2 separate regions of the Homo sapiens genome follow, and region 1 is linked to region 2. A link means that fine-mapping ties the variant in region 2 to the expression of a gene that starts in the linked region. Tissue or cell type: whole blood. Region 2 holds a variant in brackets; the other region holds the start of a gene. All regions are shown on one strand. Distances are from middle to middle.

Region 1 (8,093 bases), 120 kb after region 2:
AGTTCCTTCAGGTCAGGAACCTAAGACAAAGGAGCATCACCCACCAGGGACCAAACGTGCCAGCACTGTGACCTGCCCAGATGGCTCAGCTCCTTGTGGGCCCTCAGAAGGAGGGGGCTATACAGGATAAGTGTGATCCAGATGGGGGAAAAGAATGTGCATCCACCCACTGGGTGGTTCTGTGCAGGCGCAAAGGCAGGCGGCTCCTGGCAGCACAACAATGAACATGTGCCAAGACCCTCAGCCCTCAAAGATGGCCCAGGGCTCAGAGCCCCGCCACAGCCCTGCTGCAGCACTGGGCTGTGCCCTCACAGCACATGGGACACACCGGTCAGGAACAACAACAAACAAAAGCTCCTAAACTCACAGTGAGAACCAAGTGGGTCAATTGCAGGCCTAACGGGAAACTTTCTGTCCTTCCAAACAAAGTCAAAACACACACACAAATCAGAAGGCCTAACAAACACCCACATTCTACATCAAGGCAAATTACGTTCTGGCTGCTCAAGCAACTCTAATTTCTTGCAACAGATCAGGAAAATACAAAAACTGTTACAATTCTAAGCAATTTCTACTTTTTACTTTGTAGACTTCTATGCAGCACGCATCACTTATGTTTTTGCTATAGCTTTAGGTTACTTAACATATCCTTTACTAAATGGAAGAAGAAAACAAAGACACCACAGGAAATGCTGGAACAAGCCCCAGGTCCAGGTCAGCCAACCAGCAATGGGGACCCCTCTGGCGCAGGCTCCAGACCAGACTTGGCCTTTGTTTCTGTACTGAGTGTAAGGATAACCCTTCTGTGGCTGGATTGTACTATTATTTAATTGTCAGGGTCTTTGTCTTGTCTCCCCTAATGCTGATAGTAGCATATTGATTTCTATCCTTCATAGCCCACAAAGCACATATTCAGAGGATCAATAACTATTGATTCATTGATTGCCTCATGGAAGCCAATTCATCTGTTATTAAGACGTGTAGAAACATGAACTTCCACAAATCAAATTCTATTTAAAACGCCAGAGGAAAGTATATGACCTAATGAAGACCACTTTTTGAAAATTCATTTTGATATTCCAAAAATAATTCCTTGTAACAGAAACAAACCATACATAAGTACAAAAAGAAGACAAAGTATAGGTTCCCTCTTCCTCTTCCCTCTCCTCCCCCAACACACACTCACTCACATTCACACACGCCCCACCCTTTGCTAACTGTGGAGTGCTGCTTTCACTCAGGGCTGAGTCCCTAGAGCCTGGGGCAGCGCCTGGCACCAGGTCCACATAGGCGGCTCCATAATGATCTGCTGAATACCAGGTGTGTGTCCTTCCAGATGGGCTTCCGTGCTGAGCGCCTGCACTTGTGCATGGAGAGGGCACATTCTCTATAGTCTACACTAAGGAGTGACATTTCTACTTAATAGATTGGCATATCTTTTAAAGTAAACCTTTGAATGATGCCATCATGAAGTAAAGAATCCAATGGCATGTTTTACAGGGAGGAATTGGAGATCTCCGATTATTATTAACTTTTCATGATGGAGAATTTTCAAAGTGCATGCAAGTAGGCAGAACAGAACAAAGAACCCAGGTACTCTCATCCAGACCCCAAACTGTCCACTCAGACCATCTCGCCCCTTCTCATCCCCTCTGCTTCCCCACCCCACACTAATCTGAGGCAGATCCCAAACATCATTTCATCTACCAACACTCAGTATCTATTGCTAAAGGGTGAAAGTTATTCTAACATAACCACGATGCTGTGATTAAGGAATTCCTTAAAATCATCATTCACTCCACAAATGTCCATGAGACACATCAATAGCCTAGTTTTCAAAGGAGTGATGCTTGGATCAAATGCTGATCCAAGTGACAGCCTGGATCAGGCTTTGATCGAAGCCAGAAATCTTGGGGTGCCACTTAGATGTGATCCAGGGCAGGGATGCAGTCATTGCTTTCATGGGCAGCATCTGAAACTTCTGGACCAAATAACAGGACCCTGCCTGCCCCCCACTGAGGTTTGCACAGGTGCTGTGGGAAGGCGGCTGCTGATGCCCCAGGGGAAGCAGCAAGGCAGTAGAAAGCTGGGGCCCCTGCTGTGACACCCCCAGCTAAAGGCAAATTCGCTCAGGGAGGGTCACAGAAGCTGAAAAGTGACCCACAAGCAGCAAAGCAATTTGCTTATCCCAAGGATCGCCTTAACTAGTGCACCTAAAACACCACCCAGCTTCCAGGGAAGGCCCTGGCACACCCTCTCCACCTGACTGAATCAGCAGCTATCTCCTCCAGCAGCCCTGGACCCTGGACGGCAATGGTGATGGGGATGGGGATGCAATGGGCAGGGCTGAGGAACTGCACCTGCCAAGCCCAGGGCGGACCCTGGCCCAGGGAAGAGAGGACCCACCCCAGCTGCCTCTGCCACCTCCCTTCTCACCTTCTAGTCTTCTTCCTGGAATTGTCCAAGTTCAAAGAAGAAATAACTGCCCTGGTTGGGAACAGCAGGCAGCAGCCTTTCTCTCAGCAACTAGGCTCGACAATCAGCCGACGGCACGTTTATTTCTATATTTTCACGTGGCAAGTTTCATCCCCATGGGTCCTAGCTCCAACCCTGGAGCTCTGGCTCCAGGGGTCAGGAGGAGAATCTGCAACCACCCTCCTGGACCCGCCCATCCCTCCCTCCCCAACAGAAATGGAACCAAGAGAGGCAGAAGCCTGAACAGCCTCAATGCAGAAGCACAGAAGATAGAGAAAACCATTGATCTTTGCAATGCATTATTGATTTTGCTGTTGTGCTGTCAGCAGCGGACGTTCCCTCCCTCCTCAGTCAAAGCTGGCCATTAGCGTGCACTCCCAAGCTTTGGCCTAGACACACCCGCTTGGTGTGGGGAAAGCGGCTCTAGGTAACATCTGCCTCCAGCGGTCCACATGGAGAGGACTGTCCACAAGTGGATGATGTCACCAAGGACATCTCCCTGGCCCCAGACCCACTGGATATCAAATGCAACATGGTCGCTGGTCTTGCACTCTAAACCTCAGCCCAGGACCCCAGGCACTCAGGGGGGTCTGTGCAAGGCTGCATTTTCAACAGACTCTGGGTGTGCTTCTCAGGAGGTGGGCCCCCTCCCATGGAGTCCCTCCCTTGTGCTGTGCTGCAAGACCTTGGGCTGGCATGGCAGCTGGGGCTCTGCATCCCCACGGTGGCCTTTTGCCTGTCTGCACTCTGAAATACAGCCACTGAGTTCCACCGTCTACCAACTCCTAAGCGGCCCACCCTCCTGGGACCCCAGGGCTGCTCCTGGCACCAGTGATGTGTTTCTATTTCTTTGTTTGACTCGCTGAGTGTACCACGTACACTCTTCTCAGTCTGAAGGTCTGGCCTTATGGGAGGGCAGTCTTTGCTCACAGAAACAGGCCAGTGCATCCCTCATCTTCCCACCCCAGCCTCCCTGGTGGGTATGCTGAGCCCGCCTGCTTTCTTCTTCTGGCTGACGACTACCAAGACATGATATACGCAGACACCAACTGTCAAAATGACAATCAGGGCATTATCATCTCTACCAGAATCCTGCCCCTGCACTGGCCAGAGCTGCCTGTTTCTGGGACACAGTAAACATTCCCAAATAACCTCGCCTGGGCAGCCAGCAGGCAGGCCCCAGGCCTAGGACACATATGAGGTGACAGGCCACTGGTGTCACGTCACCCCCAGGAAAGGAAACTTCCGTTCCGTGGCGCCTGGTGGATTTGAAAAGACTCAGAACAGCAGGGTGAGATGCTTGGCCCCAGGCCCCACGTCCAGCTTGGCCTTCGGGGGCCTGGCCACCCACGAGCCTGGGATGTGCTCAACACAGAGTGAGGTTTTCAAAACAAAAGCAAAGCAACTTCATGTGGAAAACCTTCCGGAAAGCAGGACCCAGCCCTCGACACCAGGCCTCATTTGACGCAAACTGCCCACTTACAGACTCCCATTCACCCACTCTCCCACCTACCCCCCAAAATACTAAGCCAGAAAATAGAGGACAACCACGAGTTCAACTCTCCTTTACACGTTTTTACTGGCATAACCCCAGTAGAGCCAGCCCCTTGCAGCTCACTAGGCGGCTGCAACAGGTGCAGCCCAAGCTAAGGCTTGTGGTTCTCCTGGGCTGTTCTAGAATAATGCAACCAAAACCCGAAAGGAAACCGAGGCCTGCAGCACTCACTGCCAAGGCGGCGACCTGACCACTGCGGCCCAACCTGCCCCACCTGTCTGAGTGCGCGGCGCCGGGTCCAGTGCACAGGGTCCGCGGCCTCCGCGACCAAAATAGAAGCCCGCGGGGGCCCGGCCAGAGCCCGGCTGGCCGGAGTGGGGCCTGACCTGGCGGGGCCGGACTGGGCGGGCCGGGGCGCGACGGGGCCTGGCCGAGCGCACCGCCCCCTCCCTGGCCCGGGTATGCAGCGCGCCCCCGCTCCCCCGCGCCCAGAGGAGCCACCTGCGCGCAGGGACTGGGGAGGCAACCGGGAAGGGGAGAAGGCCGGGGAGGGATAGCAGAGAGGTCCAGGGGGTCGGAGGGGTCCGGGTAGGTGTCTCTGGGAGGCGTCCCAGGAGGGGCCCCGGGGGGATCCAGGAAGGAGTCCAGGGGTCCGGGGATCCCAGAAGGAGGCTCCTGCAGGGGTTCGGGGAGGGCCCCGAGGGTCCGGTGAGGAGCCTAGGGGTGTGGAGTGGGGGCTCCGCGGAGGGTCCAGGCCGCCCCCAGCGCACCTGCCCGGCCCCGCGCGCCCTCCCTCCCGCGCCAGCCCGGCCGCTTACCTGCAGCGCGCGTCCTGCCCGCGGCGGCTCCCGGCCGGGCGAGTTCGGGCGCCAGGAATGGCGGCGGCGGCGGCGGCGGCAGCGGCGGGAGGCGGCCGGGCCGGGGAGGGGGTGGCGGGGAGGCCCGGCGGCGGCAGCGGCGGCTGGGATGCTGCGGCGCGCGAGAGCGCTGAGGCCGGCGCGGGGACGGAGTGCGCGGGGCGGGCGCGCAGGCCCCTCCTCCGCTCCCCCTCCCTTCCCGCCTCCTCCCCTTTCCCTTCCCCTTCCTCTCCCCCTTCTTCTCTTCCCTCCTATGGCCCCGCCCCTTTCTTCCTCCTTCCTCCTCCCTCCTCCTCGCCCCTGCTCACCTCCCTCCTTTCCCTCCCCCAACCTTTCTTTTCCTCCCTTCTCTTTTTCCTCCTCTTTCTTCACCTTCGCAACACTCTTCCACCTCTCTCCCCTTCTCCCCACTTTTGCTCCCCACTCCTTCCTCCTCACCTCCCATCTCTCTTGCCTCCCCGCCAGGCCCAGAGGGTTGTCCCTCAGCCCTGGGTTGGTCTCTGCTGAGTCAAGCACCCGTTCCCAGGACCAAGAGGTGCCCTGTCACCCTCTTCCTCACCAGCTCTCAATAGACAAGCTTGCCCCTTCTGGGGTCCTGGATGAACCCCACCCTTTCCAGGCCTCCCCCAAATCCCCCAGTTTTTTTTCACCCCCAGACCCTGGGCCAGCTCTTCTGAGAACCTGACCTGCAGTGTGCGTGAGGCACGTGGCACCCAGAACACTTGGCTGCTGACTTTGGGCAAGAATATTTCACACCAGGCTGCTCCCATTCCCCAGGGGAGGGGCTGGCACCACCTGGAGTCTTGGTTTCCCTGAACCCCCGTGCTAGCCTTTTGCCAAACGTTCATCATTTTCCACTCTGTATGGCAAATGGTCCTCCTGTGAGGCTGCTGGTGAGACTTGTTTGTGACTAGCCCATGGGTTTGGGGATCTGGGGGCCCTCAGAGATGGTGCTGCTCCATCCAGACCTCTTCCCTCTGCCCCCAGGAGAGGTGACAGGGCTCGCACAGTGACTGGCCAGGCTGGGAGGCCTATTGAGGAACACAGTCCTGAGAAGGGGACACAGTTTCTTACGGAACCAGCTAAGATTTCCCCTAAATGTGAGGAGTTGGGGAGCCCCTCTCCAGGCCAGGTGATACCTCCCTGGACTACAGACTGCTGTTGAGGGGCAGGGGCCCTGAGGCTGTTTTCCTGCTGAGCACTGGCTCTGAGAGCCAGAGTTTACAAATGAAGCCAGTCCCAGGCCCAACAGTCACAGAGTTAAAGGCCCAACAGTCTCAGAGTTCCGTTCTAGGGCCTCCTGTGGTTTCTGTGGTTCAGTGCCGGAGCTCTGAGAATAGGGCTTCGGCCCAGCAAAGGCTAAGATGGCAAAGCTGGTGTCAAGCAGGGTGGGGTGGAGCACGCACCCCCTCCTCCCTCTACGGCATGGCAGCCACCACCCTCTTGCTGAAGAATCCAGACCTGGAATCTGATAGACTCCCTTGACTCACAGCTCTGCAGTTTCCAAATAACCTCAGGCCTCAGCAAACCTCTGTACCCTGCAACATGAGGACAGTGTGGTCGTCCTGGAGGGTTTGGGGAGCACGGAGAGAGAATGGCAGGTAAAGCCCACTGCACCGTGTGCTCGGGTTCAGTGCTGGTGACTATTACAGGAAAAACTAGAGAAGTCTTTTCCAAGCTCTTTTCCAATTGTAGGGGTCCATGAATCCATGTTCCACATCCCATTTGGATTGAAACATAATGGGAACGGATTAGGACAGAACTGGTTTAACAGCATTCTATACCCAAGGAGGGATGCACGCTTAGGATCTACACATGCAAGCATTGCACTGATTGGGGTGGGGTGGGGGGACTCTCTTTTATTCCTCACTAGTCAGACACATCTAGAATACCATGCCCTTGCTTGGTGTCTAAGGCAGCCAGCAGTATCCCGTGGGAGGGGAGTTGACCCACCGGGAGTCTTCAGCCTAGAAAATCAATGTGTGGAGCACAAGACAGAAGAACCCCAATATGTGCAAAACTGTCCCGGGAAGAAGGATTACTCTGTGGTGTTATGAAGGGCAGAATGAGGACAGATGGGTGGAAATTAGATGAGAAAGTGGATTCCTGCCTATCGTGGGCGCTTTCTGACAGACCTCACTGTGGAAGAGCCGGCTGCCCCTACAGGAGCGTGCCCTTCACAGCCAGCGTCTAGACAGGCCTGGGGCCACCTTGGGAACACACTGCAGGGAGGGGACCAGCAGCAGAGGGGTATGCTTCTCAACAACTGCTGAATTCTCTCCTGGCTTTTAGACCCACATGCTCAGAATCTAATAGAGGGCAGCCCAGGGCAAAGAAGAGACTTTGCATGGCTGTCCTGGGGCCCACACTTCTGGCATCATGACCTTCCAGAATACTGTCCTCTCTAGCCTGTTTCCTAATGCATACAGAAGAACATGAGAGAATTCAGTAAAAACTCCAAAAAGCTTTCCGCAATGCCCAGGCTGCGAACACAAGGGCTTCTTTGCACCGTGCTTATATAAAATTGCCCCCAAACATGTTTATTGCATTCATGAAGGAGACAGGACTCTTAGTTGTAAGTGATAGAACTTCAGCCCATACTATTGGCTCACTTGCATCCAAAGATGCCCCAAGTACCATTAGAACCGGGACTTGGATGCCATTATTAGGTCTTCCTCTTCCCTCCTCTCTGACCTTCTTCCCTGTTCCCTTCTCTCAGCATGATTGCCTATGTCTCCCAAAGTGACCAAGCTTGCCTTTTTATTCTTGTTTCACACTCTGTCGTGGGACATTTCAAACATAGATATAAAAGTAGCAGGCTGGGTGCAGTGGCTCACGCCTGTAATCCCAACACTTTGGGAGGCTGAGGCAGGCGGATCACCTGAGGTCAGGAGTTCGAGACCAGCCTTGCCAACATGGTGAAACCCCGTCTCTACTAAAAATACAAAAATTAGGTGGGCATGGTGGCACAAACCTGTAATCCCAGCTACTCAGGAGGCTGAGGCAGGAGAATCACTTGAACCCGGGAGGCGGAGGTTGCAGTGAGCCAAGATCATATACCACTGCACTCCAGCTTGGGCGACAGAGCAAAACTCAGTCTCAAAAAATAAAAATAAAAGTAGCTAAATGAACTCCAATCTTGCCTTACCTCTCACCCCCTTACTTTCCCCTCCAATATTAAGTTCAAGCATATCAAAGATCATATTAACCAATCTATTTCCTAGTTTCCCCAGAAATGCCAAGTGTTTGGATACTGAGACCATGCT
Region 2 (8,102 bases):
GAGGGCCCAACTCACCTGTGGCCTGGCAGAAGAGGTAGAAGTTCCCCAGGGCGTGCACGTGCTGTGCCTGGTCACTCAGGAAGGGCGGCAGCAAGGAGACCCTCGAGCTGCTGTCGGGCCCCGCACCCGAGGCTGGCCAGGGGGTCCAGGGAGAGGAAAGCCTCCTGTCCCCCACATGGCCCAGACAGGACAGGGAAGAGGAGCCAGGAGGAGGGAGGGGCTTAGGAGACGAGGCTGTGAGACAGAGAGGACAGAAAAGAGAGGGCACTGAGGAAGAAGTCGCCAGGAGCACGTCACAGGCCAGAGAGGGCAAAACACAGCAGGAAACGGACAGAAAAGAGCGAGCCCAGCTGTCCCGCCTGGGCCATGCAGGGGCGGGAGGCTGCACAGCCTCCGCTAAGGAATGTCTTCCCCAAATCAAGGATAGAAGCTTCTCATTTATTTGGGTACTTTCCAAATGTATACAATTCAAAGTAGAAAAATAAAAACAAGGTAAATCTTATAAAACACAAATGTTTACACCAAAATGGTCAAATCCTATCATGCTGGAAGATAAGACTGTCCACACACGCGCACAAACATCCAGAGTTTATTGCTCTTCACCATGGAAAAAAAGTCTCTTCCCGATGGGTATTTACAAAGCGGGGAGATGGAGTGTGAAATTAACCAGTGTTGAAATCGTACCACCCATTCACATCTTCAGGACAGTGGCAGGAACAGCGCCGTATGCTTGAGGGTGCTGTGGTCACAGCTCGCGGCCCCGGCCACCGAGGCCCAGTTCCCTTCCAGTAGTGGGCAGCTCAGTGAGGCTGGATAGAAAGTCTGGGCAGGCAGTGGGTAAGCAATTGAAGCAAGAAGAGAAAGGAGATGTTCAGAGAACCAAAGGCGCCCTTGTGAAGGTTCCATCTGTCTCACAGGAGGTTCTGACCGACAGCTGTGGGCTCCAGATTGTACCGCACTCCCATCTCAGCTCTGGGCCAGCCTGGCTCCACTCAGCTCATCCAGGCTACCTTCCCTTGCTCAAAACCCACCTCGTGGATGTGGGAAGGTCCTCTTCTTCGAGAGAGTAAAAGTTAAAAAAAAAGAAAAGTAAAACGAAGTACAGAAAGAAAATCTCTCCAAAAACAATGCTTCCCTCAAGGAATAAAGTTAAAAAAAAAAAAAGAAAAAGAAAAAAGGTGAGTGGGCTCCGGGGAGTGTTTATGTCTACATTTCTAAAAGCAGAAAGAATGCATTTAGCAAAAGGAAGTTTATCCCTGAGAATCTTAAGCAACGTAAGCCGTATTTTATGCCAAATATATAACAAAATCTGGAAGATATACATCTTCTTCTAAATATTAACACAACTGCTTCTGTAACTAAAAAAAAATGACCCATGACATAAACACAATCAAAGCAAAATCCTAAAAAAATAATTAAGTGGAAGAAAAGGTTCGTGCCAATCTGGACAACAGGCGATAAGTTACCAATCTGATAAACTAAAATGTCATTTCCAATCTGGAATTAAATAATCTTTTAGTGGCTGCTACGGGGAGGGGAAGCTGAAGGGATGCTCTTCTCAGCCAACAGAGGTCCAGCCACCTTTCCCCCACTACAGAAAGGGCTCAGGAACTCCGTGCCGCCCGTGGGCCTTCTTCAAGTACTCCGACTGACTTCGGAACACAAGACTGGGATGCAATGCTTGTCATTTTTCCAAAAGGACAAAGAGAAACCAAGTCACAGGCTCAACCCAAGAGAAAATAGACAAGAGGACTGAGGTTGTCTGCACGATGCGGGCTAACCTACGCAGCACTGCACGAGACTCGGATACTGAACAGGAGAAACACAAAACTCTCCACGCCTGGACACGTCGCAGCCGAGGCACCAGCGGGGATGCACAGCCGGCCTCAGTCTCCATCTGCGTCTGAGTCAGCGAACTTCAGCTCACACTTGACGTCAAAGGGCTTGTCCCTGGCAGAAAGGTCGTCGATCCTCTGTGAGTCCTCCCTATCCGTGGGGACTTTGCTGGTGATGGTGTCTTGCTCGGTCTCATAGCCGGTGTCCAGGGCTGGCTTGGGGTGCTCCCCATTCTGCTGGGAGAAGCTCCCTGGCTCTACTAACGTCTCCTTCAGGCTCTGCTCACGGTCACAGAAATCTGACTTGGGCTTCTTCTTCCCAATTAGTAGGGCCGAGCGGAATTTCAAGCACTGTCTGGGCAGGTATCCCTTATAGCAGTTGTAGAAAAAGAGGCAGAGGAAGAGAACAAAGAAGAAGAGGAAGAGGGACATGAGGAGGCGGTTGTCGCTGGACTTAAGATACATGGTTTTCTCCGAGTGGAGCTGGGGGACCGTGTTGATGACGATCTTTGGTTCGCAGGATGTGCCGGTGGGCGCAGGCTTGGGAGGAAGGGTGATGGCCCCGGAGGAGGTGGCCTGCACGGCTGGGGTTGGGGGAGAAGACCCTTGGGTGGATGCCACCAACACTTTGGTGGCAATCCTACTACCTTCTGTCTGAACAACTGACAAGGTGGGGGCCACTACGGGCTTTGGAACCACCTTCACTTCCAGGACGTGCTTGGCGACCACTTGGAAGACCGTTTTGTTCTTAACCCTCTCCTCTGACAGGCACTGGTACACCCCACTGTCTCCTTCTGACAAGTTGAAGATGAGCAAGTTTTTTCTGCCCATAAGACCGTACTTGGGGCTCTCGGCCTTCAACACGCCATTCTGGAACTTCCAAAAGACCCGGGCCAGGTTGGATTTTTGGGAGCATTTCAGTTCCGCTGTGCCACCGTGCTTGAAAAAATGCTGCCGGTAACTTCCTTTACTTTTATCTGGAACATCAAAATAAACGTGCACAGCGTCAACAATCCCCATTTGCTATTTAACAACTTCTTTAAAATACCCACAAGATGACGCAAGAGTTTCACCCACTGTAGCAACATGGAATCTTCCAGAACAACTAAGGAGATAAAGACATGCGTGACCAAAAAGCAAAGATGAGCCCTGGATGACAGCCCATGGGGACAAAGAAATTGGAGGCAGCTCTGAGCAGCAGAAATCCCATTTCTCACCCGTGTCCCAGAAGAAAACGCGTCAGGCTGGGGAAGCTGAGCAGAGGCCAGTTCTGTGCCTAGTGTCAGCTCTTTGAATCAGACACGAGACGCTTCTGCTAATGGCTGCAAGGAAGACTGGCCTTTCAGTGCATCTCAGCACTCTCCTCCTGCCTAAACTTTTCTTTTTTTTCTTTTTTTTGAAACAGGGTCTGGCTCTGTTGCCCAGGCTGGAGTGCAGTGGTGCAATCACAGCTCACTGCAGCTTCAACCCCCCCAGCTCAAGGGATCTTCCCACCTCAGTCTCCAGAGTAGCTGGGACTACAGGTGACCACCTCCAGGCCTGGCTAATTTTTGTATTTTTTGTAGAGACAGGGTCTCACCACGTTGCCCAGGGTAGTCTCGAACTCCTGAGCTCAAGTGATCCTCTTGCCTCAGACTCCCAAAATGCTGGGATTACAGGCATGAGCCACTGTGCCCGGCCAGCTTTTGTTTTCTTTTTAGAGTCTGGGTCTCACTTTGTCACCCCAGGCTGGAGTGCAGTGGCATGATAAGCTCACTGAGCCTTGAACCC[C/G]TGGGCACAAGCAATCCTCCTGCCTCAGCCTCCCTAGTAGCTGGGACTACAGGCGTGTACCACCATGCCCAGCTGCCTAAACCTTTCTTAGTCTGATGACAGCTGTCTTGTCAGGGTCAGGAAGACACAGAACTGAGGGTCAAGTCTGCCTTTAGCACCCTGGAAGGTGGCTGCTGGGGAAGGGGCATCTGGCCTGATGCCACCCCTCCCTCTGGGTGTGGTGCTATTTCAGACATCCACAGGCGGGTGAATCCCAGGTGGGAGCCCCAGGGGAAACACCACCCCAGCCCTTACACTGCCTGAGGATTAATCACTCATGGGCTCCTTTCTCCCCATTTATAACAGGCTTAGGTTTTGCTTAATGAGCCCCAAGCTAAGCAGAAAGAAAACAGGATGGTTTTGGAAGGAGACTGCTTCCCAGTAAGCAGATACACTCTAAGTGGCTTCAAGTACTCTTTCGGCAAGAAAAAAAGACAGAGAAGACCACGAGTCTGCTACAGAACACTTGACCTCTGTTCCGAGTGGAGAAAGAAAAACAAAACACACACAAATGCCACAGAACTGAAGCACCGTGAAATGGCTACAAGACCTCGCCACTCCCAAAGGAAATGGGACGTCGAGGAGTCACTCACCCGGGCACACAGAAGCATCGCCGCTCATCTCCTGAATCAAACCCCTGCAAAACAACCGGCACGTGTTATTCACCCACACACATGGGGGACATCCCCAGGCAGCGCATCCCGCCCCATACCTGCTGGGGCTCTCGGTCTGGTGCAGAGCCACGCAGGTCGCTGTGGGCGGGCTCCAGGCGCAGTAGGGGTCCCGCGCCAGCACACAGTCCTCGCAGGTGCCGTGCTTCCCACAGAAGGCCAGCGGGGCCTGGACCACGCCCGAGTTAGAGCCAGCATAGACAAACCTGTTGCCCTGCGTGTATGAGACAGAGAAGAACTAGCATCAGGCAAGCAGGCATCCAGGAGCATGGCCTCTGCTTCTGCACCAGTGTGTGGGAAGCAGCCAGAGTGTACCTTCAGGGGACATTGCAGTAAGGAGGAGAGGTACTCAGAACCAGAGGCAAACAAGGCAGGTCTGTGACCTTCCTGCAGAATCCACGTGCTATGTCAGGGCTCACTGGGCCTTAGGTCCAAATCCCTCTCTCCCCTGTCTGGGCACCCACAGGTGCCTGCCCTCCAGCAAAGCGCTTCTCTGCACGTGTTTCTCTTAGCCAGTGGGGAGGCTGTTCAGTCCCCACCTCCAGATCTCCTCCCTGCAGCAGAGGATGCATGAGCCTGGCACTCCCGGTCATCTTCCCGGCCTCACTATAGGTGAGAAGGGGCTGCAGCCAGAGGCTGAAGCACACCACCTCGAAGCCCAACCTCGTCCCCCGAGCCAGAATGTGAGCACCTGTGGGCGGGGAGCCTCTCGTGAGGGTCTGGATCCAGCAGAGGCCTAACATAACAGGGATGCCAAACGGACGACATGCAAAGGATGAGGAGATCGTGATACAAAACATAAAAAAGGAACAATGCCTTTTGCTTTTCACTTATCTATATGTAAAAGGGAAGAGCTCACAGACGGGAAGTCAACCTCCGAGCTCCAGAGCAGCCACACCCACAGCAGAGGGCAGGTGAGACTCTCCCACCTTCTGGGACACTTGGTTCCCAGTGACACCAGCTTCAGGTCCATCCCATCAGCCCACCTGGCACCAGCAGTGCCCAGCACACAGGCATCCAGGGCTGCTGACTGCTTTTGAACGGAACTCAGCTGGAAGGAGGGTGCCCCACATGCAGTGCACCCACCTGAAGCTCGGGGGCGTGCAACAGACCTGGAGGTGGCCCGTGGAGCGCGCTCTCTAGCCTCTGCCCAGGGCATCTGCCTCAACAGCCTGGGGACACCTTTTGGTTAACAATACAAGATTCCCAAATTTACACATGACTTAGTGGTTTACAGTCAGATGAAACACGACCTTCATCCTCAGAGGATACGCTCGGAGTCAACTTCAGAGTGTGGTTGGAAGATCACAGGCCCTGATGCCAATACAGGAAGCCCCAGGCCACACATCCAGCTGTGCGGACACAGACCCACGAGAGAAAGGGAAAGCCCCCAAGGATGGAAACTGTGATAATACACAGCAGAGGGAACCTGGCCCGCCGCTGGCCTCACAGCAGCAGCAGCAGCAGAGACCTGGGCAGATGAGGCCATGTGTGAGCCACGTTTGTGGGAAGGATTGAGGATGACATCCCAGATCACAGTTCGGGCATCGCGCGGCTTGTGGAGGTGGCGGAAACATTCTCTGGCAGCAAAGCCAAGCTGGGTAACTTCCAAGGGACAGCTGGTCCTGTTGGGTCCCGCGGGGGGCACCTGCGAGGTGGCGTGAACACCATGCAGTGCAGAGCAGGGTGCCCTGGGTGGCCAAGTGGGGCCCGCCTGACTCCTCACCCCAAAGAGAGGCTTGAGGGTAGCTGTGGAGGGTGGGGTGGGCTCTGGGGGGCAAGGCCTGTCCCAAGGGGATCCAGACCACCTCCTGCACCCTGCGGGAGACTCAGCCCCAGCTTCCGCTTCTCCCGGATGGGGCTGGGCTGCAGCCCAAATGAAACTAAGCTGTAAAAACTAAACGACGCCACACAGAGACCAAGGGATGACTGTGGAAGGGAAGAGGGGACAGGGAAGGAGGAACTGGTCGTCAGGACAGCCAGCTGTAACTGCTGCAGGCAGGACCCACTGGTCGATGTGGATGTCAGTGGGTGGGAGAACAGGGCATTTCTGTAGCCTCCAAGTCTGTCCCTGCAAATAAGCATGAATGACTGTGGGGGTTTCCCACATGACTCCCCTGGGAGGTGGGGCTCACTCTCCCCCACCCCCAGTGTGGACTACATGCCCCGACACACTCGACATGGAAAAAGACGGTGGTGACTTGGACAGAATGACCAAGGTCATCACGCTGGTGCGAGTCATACAGATGCCCCATCCCCAGAAAGCGCCCTCTTTGGTGCTCCCCCTAAAACCACGACCCCAAGATAATCACAAGAATACACCAGACACACCACAAAACACCAGACTACTCCTCTCCAGGAGTGCTGAGGTCAGGGAGGCAGGAACAGAGCAGAAGCCGAGGAGATGCAGTGTCCAGTGCAACCTGAGGTGCTGAGCCAGGAATGTGGTGGGCGGGAGGTAGGAGGGTCCAGGGTCTGGGGTTCAGGTAACGCACTGCACCATGACAGCACCTTGGCTCAGATAAATGCACACTGGCTATGTGAGACATCGGACATGTGGAGCTAGGTGGGGGCGCTCAAGATCCTTCTGTGCAATCATCAAAACTCTTCTGTAAATTTAAAATTATTTCAAGACAAAATTTTTAAAGGCAAAGAAAAAAAGCCTGACCAGGCACCTGGCAGCATGAGTGAGGCCCGCTGAGAGCAAGCCTGTCCTGTGCACTCCTGCCCCTCGACGCCCCCTGTCTCCGCCTTCCCTGGGCCTGAGGATTGTCCCCTTGCAGGCAGCTCTCATGCTCCCATCTCTGTCTCTGCTGCTGTGTGTGCGCGTCAGACCCCGAGGGCAGGTTGGAGTGACGGTGGACGTGATCAGAGGCAACTGAGCTGTCTAAGTGCCTTCCTTGCCCTCTGCCACGCTAGCTGTAGCTCAGCATCCCAAGGAGTCCTGGTGAAAATACAGACACAGCCTACTCGGTGGGCTCAGAGAGGGCCGAGCAAACCGCATCTGCTGTGTGCGCCCAAGGAATGGAAAGCAAGGACTTGAGGTATCTGCACACCCACGTTCACAGCAGCACTGTTCACAGAAGCCAGAAGGTGGGAGCAACCGTGTCCATCAAGGGATGAACGCACACACAAAATGCGGGACTCACAAAATGCGGTATTCACATACGACAGAGGAGTATGTAGCCTTGGAAAACCCTGACCCCTGCTACAGCAGGGAGGAACCTTGAGGACTTTATGTTAAGTGAAATAAGCCAGTTACAAATGGATAAATACTGTGTGATTCCACTCATATGAGGTACCCAGACAGAAACAGAAAGCAGAATGGCGGCTGCCCAGGGCTGGAGGAGGGGAAAATGAAGAGTTTGTATTTCACAGGTAAAAAGCTTCTGTTTGGGAAGATGAAAAGCACCCTGCAGACAGACAGTGGTAATGGCTGCAAAACAACGTGAATGTTCTTAATGCCACTGACGTGCACAATGAAAAATGGTTAAGACGGCAAATTTCATCTGATGTGTATTTACCAAAATAAAAAGCAAAACCCCATGCTTGTCATCAGGGGAGAGGAGGTGAGGGTGGAGGCACAGCGCACCTCCCCAGCTGTAGGACAGGGGGAGGGCGTGGTACTGGCCGTTTCTCCATTTGCTGATCACCGTGAGAGAGCCTGATGGGGTCAGGCGGCACAGTCTTTTTACCACTGAACAGCCACTTCCTGCTGCCATGGCCATGGAGCTGGGCCTTCCACCCCCACCTGGAGCCTACTGAGGCCCAAGGAGAAGGCACAGGA

The links. PIP is the estimated chance that this variant, and not a neighbour inherited with it, causes the effect.
Region 1: it holds the start of SEMA4D, and the variant in region 2 is fine-mapped to the expression of SEMA4D in whole blood (TOPMed, PIP above 0.99).

What each region holds. Positions count from the first base shown.
Region 1 is chr9:89,493,131-89,501,223 of GRCh38, forward strand. SEMA4D (semaphorin 4D) reads right to left here and starts at 4,983. Exons shown (of 16, transcript NM_001371194.2): 1 at 4,789-4,983. RefSeq lists silencers at 4,303-4,452, 4,883-5,072.
Region 2 is chr9:89,376,818-89,384,919 of GRCh38, forward strand. SEMA4D (semaphorin 4D) reads right to left here. Exons shown (of 16, transcript NM_001371194.2): 14 at 4,357-4,529; 15 at 4,238-4,281; 16 at 418-2,812. The coding sequence ends at 1,887. Among named protein-coding and RNA genes, the nearest start is that of SECISBP2, 62 kb to the left of the region's middle. The variant C/G (reference allele first, on the strand shown) is at 3,606.